2 linked regions of the Homo sapiens genome follow. The protein of the gene in region 1 interacts with the protein of each later gene in a pairwise test. Each region holds a gene or a part of one and is shown on either strand. Other genes may lie near its edges.

What was found.
Region 2: the proteins of SPATA13 (region 1) and GALK1 interact in a two-hybrid assay, tested with the Homo sapiens proteins (one large-scale study listed by BioGRID and IntAct).

What each region holds. Positions count from the first base shown.
Region 1 is NC_000013.11:24,222,927-24,226,740, forward strand, and holds part of SPATA13 (spermatogenesis-associated protein 13), read left to right. Parts: coding exon of another isoform or gene 1-3; coding exon 4-1,656; intron 1,657-3,814. UniProt on the Homo sapiens protein: Acts as a guanine nucleotide exchange factor (GEF) for RHOA, RAC1 and CDC42 GTPases. Regulates cell migration and adhesion assembly and disassembly through a RAC1, PI3K, RHOA and AKT1-dependent mechanism.
Region 2 is NC_000017.11:75,757,394-75,760,107, reverse strand, and holds the end of GALK1 (galactokinase), read left to right. Parts: intron 1-1,508; coding exon 1,509-1,659; intron 1,660-1,735; coding exon 1,736-1,898; intron 1,899-1,980; coding exon 1,981-2,052; 3' UTR 2,053-2,214; downstream 2,215-2,714. Other genes in the region: ITGB4 (integrin beta-4), read right to left, coding at 2,553-2,692. UniProt on the Homo sapiens protein: Catalyzes the transfer of a phosphate from ATP to alpha-D-galactose and participates in the first committed step in the catabolism of galactose.

The sequences.
Region 1 (3,814 bases):
GCCATGACCCAGGCTGCCGTGCGGCCCTGGGCACCCTGCCTGGAGAACATGACCACTGCCCCAAACGGCCTCGGGCCAGGCCCCGCAGCCCCCTGTGCAGGCTCGGACCTGAAAGACGCCAAGATGGTGACCTCCCTTGCGTGTGGAAATGGAGTCTGTGGCTGCAGCCCTGGTGGCGACACGGACACCCAGGAAGCCAAACTCAGCCCAGCCAAGCTTGTGCGCCTCTTTTCCACCAGTCGGAAGAGGACGGGTGCCCACCCCGAGCGGCCCCACTCCATGGTCCTGGTGGGGAACTCCTCCACATGGAACACCCTCGCCTCCTTCCGGAAAATGGGATCCTTTAAGAAACTGAAGTCCTCAGTCCTGAAAGGAATTCAGAGCCGAGAGGGGTCAAATGCCTGTTCAAAGGGAGAGGCTTCGGAGCATGGCCTGGGAAAGTCCATCCCAAATGGCGCTGTCCCAGGAGCCCAGGCAAGCAGGGGCTCCCCCTTAGCACCGGGACCAGCATGTGGTGCCCTCAGGCCAGCAGAGTGGGGCACATTGGATGGCTCCGACCTCGAGGACACGGACGATGCCTTCCAGCGGAGCACACACCGCTCCCGCAGCCTCCGCAGAGCCTACGGCCTGGGCCGCATCTGCCTGCTGGATGCGCCCCAGAACCATGCGACACCCACGATAGCCACTGGCCAGGTGCCCGCCGTGTGTGAGATTCTCGTGAGGGACCCTGAAAACAACAGCATGGGCTACAGGAGGAGCAAGAGCACGGACAATCTTGCCTTTCTGAAGAAGAGCTCCTTTAAGCGGAAGTCCACCTCCAATCTTGCAGACCTCAGGACGGCCCATGACGCACGGGTACCACAGAGGACCCTGAGCAGTTCCTCCACTGACTCCCAAAAGCTTGGGTCAGGAAGGACCAAACGCTGGAGGAGCCCGATAAGGGCCAAGGACTTTGACAGAGTCTTCAAACTTGTGAGCAATGTGACTGAGGCTGCCTGGAGGAGGGAGAGTCCTAGGAGTGGGGCCCCATCCCCTGGAGAGGCCAGCCTGAGACTTCAGGCACACAGCCGGCTGCATGACGACTACTCCCGCCGCGTCTCCAGGAGCACTGAGCAGGACAGCAGGCGGGGCGGGGCGGTCATGCATGGGACCACTGCAACCTGCACCGTGGCCCCCGGTTTCGGCTCAGCCACCTCTAAGGGGCCCCACCTAGACGCTGACACTGCCGTATTTCCTCTTGAAACCAAAAGTTCCTGGGCGGTGGAAAGCGACAGTTCCTGCACTTGCAGCTCTTTGCCAAGCCCGATTGTCCAGGATGTGTTGAGCAAAGACTCCTGTGACCCAAACGCTGGCAGCCAGTTGACATTTGACCCTGAGCAGCCTCCCACCCCTCTAAGGCCCACCACACCCAAGCCCCAGAGCCCTCAGAGCCCCCAGAGCCCCGGGGCAGGAAGTGCCAGCTGTCACAGCAATCACAGTGCCCTGTCCGCGAATTCAGAGGAAAGTGAAGGAAGGGCAGAAGAGCCTGCTCAGAGAGAGCCAGGGCCTGTGTCCTTGCAGGATCCCCTGGAAGCCACACATGGTGATGAGGGCAGCAAGGACCTTCTGGTGAACATTGGTGTGGCAGCCGGCCCAGAAGAAAAGGAGAAGGAGGAGGTAAGGGCAGCGGCGAGGTCCCTCATGTGGGCGACCCTCCTGCGGGAAGGGAGCTTGCACAGGTGTTGCCCTTGGTCCCTAACCTGTCAAGGTCAGTGGCCCTCTGCTGACCTTGTTGCCCTTACAGTATTAGTGGGAATGGGAGTTGTCAAGTTGCTGTTTACCAAGTTCAGAAGTAATCTCTATCTCCTTTGAAATAAATTGACAATGTACGAGATTCATTGAGATGACATTTGCCACACCTTTCATTCAAAAGATGTTTATTGAACATGTACCAGGTACTAGATTCTGGGGGAAAAAAATAAGTTGTAAACAAACTGTCTTCTGCTCCATGCAGCTCTGACTCATATCTTTCTTCTTTGTATTTTAAGCTGTTTCTGTAACCTTTCCCACAAAGTACATATAAGTGAAATTCTTTCTGTTAAGAGACTATTACCTGTCCTAATGTCACAGCACCTGTGGGTGTCACTTGACCAGCTGGAAACCTCTGTGGGCTGGCAGTGCCTCTGCTTGAGTTTTGCTCGTGCCCACTAGCCTCGTTCCACCCATTCTGCCCAGCAGGCTGCATTCGGCTTGCACTGCCAGCCCAGATCCCATGCCTGCCAAGGGCAAACCAGGAATGGAGCAGCGAGGGGTGTGTGAGTGAGTGAGCATGGAGTCCAGCCTCTGCACACAGCCAGGCATGTCAGCTGTTGCAGCAGGGCAGGCAGCTCCAGGTGCCGGCACAGGTGCTGGCTCCATGCAAGGCTGTGGCTGGACCAGATGCACTGTAGCTGGCTTCCGCTGCAGGCACCAGCGTGTGGACGAGGGGAACGTGGTGACGAGTGAAAGCTCAGAGATACCAGGAATCACAGAGCCCCAAAGAGGGTGTTACGGCCTGTCACAGCCTGGTTCTCATCTGGGCTCCCAGAAGGGCCACAGCTCTCTTCTTCTCATCACCTGCATTACAGCAAGCAGGGGGGCTTGTTTCTGGGAGTATGTTTCACCCCATTTGTGTTATATCTCCTTCAGTCCCACTGCCCCACTCCAGCATGCAGCTCTTGGGCTGGTCTAGCCCCACCACTGCTTCCTGTTGCATGTTGCAGCTGCCTGGTGCTGGTGGAAATTGGGAGGGTTATAGTGTTACAACTTTAGTTGAGGGAATCCCAAGGTTTGGGCCCCCAGAAGGGTTGCCACTCTTCACGCCTGCAGTCCAGGGGCATGTCACTGTCTGTAGCTCGGTGAGCTGGCCAGGAATTTGTTGCAGCCCCTTTAACTCCCACCTGCAGCTGGGCGAGCCATCCGGGAAAGTGTTACAGCTCCTTTCGCTCCCACCATTGGGCAGGTTCCACATCCAGGAAAAATGAAGTTACGTGGACAAACGGAGGGTGAGCAAGGCTGAGAAGAGCTTTATTGGGTGACTGAACAACTCTCAGCCCATAGGAGACCTGGAATGTGTTGCTCCTCTCTGCAGGCAGGTAGTCCCAATGAGTGGCGGAGTCTGGGGGTTTTTATAGGCTCAGAATGGAGGAAGTGCATGCTGATTGGTCCATGGGCAGGCCTGGAAAAAGCACCATTTGATTGGTTGAAAGGCATCAAGGAAGTTCTCACTCCAGGTCGCTGACTTCACACGAAATTGGCATCTGTGCCCTGAGGCTTCAGGCTGTCCCTGGCTTGAAGGTGGGGTTTCACTGCGGACCCGCCCCTTCCCACCTAGGTACCTGTCCACCTCCCACCACCATCACTAAGTCTGTTTAATTTCCTAGGAATGAATTAGGAACATGCAGTTTGGTACCTGTCGGCCTTTGAATGATGCTTGTTTAAAGAGATTTTTATGATGGGTTATTGTACTTATTTTAGAGTAGATCATAAGCACCTCATTAATTGACTAAGCTAATAGCTGTCAAGGTTACAACAGCAGTTTTTTTCATATTCTATCAAACATCTTTATAATTTTCACTTTATAAACACTGAGTAATATTACCTTACATAGCTGGAAGATGGGGAAATGCATTCATGTGTATATATTGCAGATTATTCTTCACATACATTTCTAGATTGATTTGCAGGTATAGATGGTGCTTGCCATAGAGAATAATCCCCTAGCAAATGCTCCTTCCCACCCATCCCTGGGGAGGACCTCAGTTTTGTCTTAGCACCTACAGATGAATGATTGCAC
Region 2 (2,714 bases), on another chromosome or scaffold:
ACAAAAAAGATACAAGTATCCTTAAGGCTCCTGCTACACATGGCCAGGAAGGTAGTCTATTGGACAGTTTTAAGGTCATTATCAATATTAGCTCATTTAATTCCCTCCAAAACTCTGTAAAGCACATTCTGCTACCATAGTTGTCATATTTTTGATGGGGGAATCTACAGTGAGAGGCAGTGCTGGGATCTGAACCCCATCTGGACAGATTAGCTCCAGGGCCCATGCTCTTGACTGGCTGGCCGTGCTGCCCACACTGAGTTGTTCCTTCCTGGCAGTGTAGGTGTGCCTATCTCAGGGACACTAGACAGCTCCGAGGGACCTCCCTGTCCTTTTCCTTTGTGAACTGTGTCACGTTCTCCAGAGCAGTGCTCAGACCTGCCCTGCCTGCTCTGTGCAGATGCCCTTGGCCAAGGTTTTCACACTGGAACAAGTTGGTCCCTCCTCCCCACCCCAGCCTGTCCTTGCCCCTCCTCCAGGTCTCCTTCTGCATAGGAGCAGCTCACCCTGCCTCCTCCAGAGTCCTGCCCTAGAAGCGCAATCCCTCTCCTTCCATCCCCTGCCTGGCTGCCTGGCTCCTTCCCTCAGCCTCCAAGACATGCTCAGTTTTCTTCCCTCCTAAAACACCACCCACTGTCTCATTTCCATTCATTTCTTTCTTTCTTTCTTTCTTTTTTTTTGAGAGGGAGCCTCACTCTGTCACCCAGGCTGAAGTGCAGTGGCATGATCTCCACTCACTGCAACCTCCGCCTCCCAGGTTCAAGCAATTCTCCTGCCTCAGCCTCCTGAGTAGCTGCGATTACAGGCGCCTGCCACGATGCCCGGCTAACTTTTGTATTTTTAGTAGAGACGGGGTTTCGCCATGTTGGCCAGGCTGGTCTCGAGCTCCTGACCTCAGGCAATCTGCCTGCCTCAGCTTCCCAAAGTGCTGGGATTACAGGTGTGAGCCACCGCGCCCACCCATTCATTTCTCAGTCCTTTGAATCTACTTGCCCCTCCATCCCGCCATGCCACCTACCCTAACAACCTTCCCCCTTAAACCTGCGGGTTTGGCCGGGCGCAGTACACTGAGTCAGTACTGGTACTGACCCAGGTACCCCTCCAGCCTCAGCTCCAGTCAGATGGGACAGCCTGCTGGTCCCTGGCTGCTTCTGCCCCCTCTTCTGGAGCCCCAGCCCTGGAGGCTCCATGTGGCTCAGCAGAACTTCTTCTCCTCCTGCTCTGTGGTGGCCTCTTGAGGGCAGCACTCACCTTGGAAAGCATGGAGTGTTTCAACCCTCACTGCTCCCTGAAGGACCAAGGTGTCCCATTTTACAGTCGGGGGAGGAGGCACTGTGATAAAGGGGCTCTTCAGACCCACGTCTGAGAGAGCCAGGCTGCCCTGCCCCCGCGGCCTTCCACCCTTCACCGTCCAGCCAGGGCCACTGCCATCACCGCCTGCTGGTCCTCACAGGCGTCGGGGCCCCAGGCAGTGAGAAGGCGGCTGCTGACTCCTCTTTCCTCCCCAGCTGCCAGGGACCTGGTGAGCAAAGAGGGCTTCCGGCGGGCCCGGCACGTGGTGGGGGAGATTCGGCGCACGGCCCAGGCAGCGGCCGCCCTGAGACGTGGCGACTACAGAGCCTTTGGCCGCCTCATGGTGGAGAGCCACCGCTCACTCAGGTGAGGCCCTCTGGGCGCCCCGCTCCTGCCGGGCACAGGCCGGCCCAGGCCCACCCCTTCAATATCCTCTCTGCAGAGACGACTATGAGGTGAGCTGCCCAGAGCTGGACCAGCTGGTGGAGGCTGCGCTTGCTGTGCCTGGGGTTTATGGCAGCCGCATGACGGGCGGTGGCTTCGGTGGCTGCACGGTGACACTGCTGGAGGCCTCCGCTGCTCCCCACGCCATGCGGCACATCCAGGTGGGCGGGCACCAGGGCCTGGGCGGGCAGGAGCGGCAGCTTCCCGGGGCCCTGCCACTCACCCCCAGCCCGCCTCTTACAGGAGCACTACGGCGGGACTGCCACCTTCTACCTCTCTCAAGCAGCCGATGGAGCCAAGGTGCTGTGCTTGTGAGGCACCCCCAGGACAGCACACGGTGAGGGTGCGGGGCCTGCAGGCCAGTCCCACGGCTCTGTGCCCGGTGCCATCTTCCATATCCGGGTGCTCAATAAACTTGTGCCTCCAATGTGGTACCTGCCTCCTCTAGAGGTGGGTGTATGCTTGGGTGTCAGAGAATGGGGGATGTCAGAACCGCTCCCCTACCCTAGGGGAGCACCTCTCAGGCCCCAGAAGAATGGGCAAGGCAGGGCCTAGCAGTAGCAAAACCATTTATTAAGTGCAGAACAAAGGCTGGGTCCTTGTGCTGCTCCCAGCTCTTTGGTTACAAATAGGTTTGGGCCCACAGAGGACGGACCTTGCCCCCTTCATGCCTCCCAGGAGACACCTAGCCCCTGCTCTGTGCATGCGGGTGGGCTGGGCCCCCAGGGGTGCAAGGATGGAGTAGCTGAGGAGGCTCCGGGAGAGGAGTCGGGAGGACGCCTAGTGGGACGTGGCGGGGGTGGGGCAGGGTGCGGTCAAGTTTGGAAGAACTGTTGGTCCATGTGGGTGCTAAGGGTTCCGCTGGTGGTCAGTGTCCGGCTCACAAACTCCTGGGTCACATGCCGGGTGAGGGAGCCGCCTGCCTCCAGGTGCTGGGCCCCCAGGGTCAGCCCATCTGTGGAGGAGGAGGCATTAGA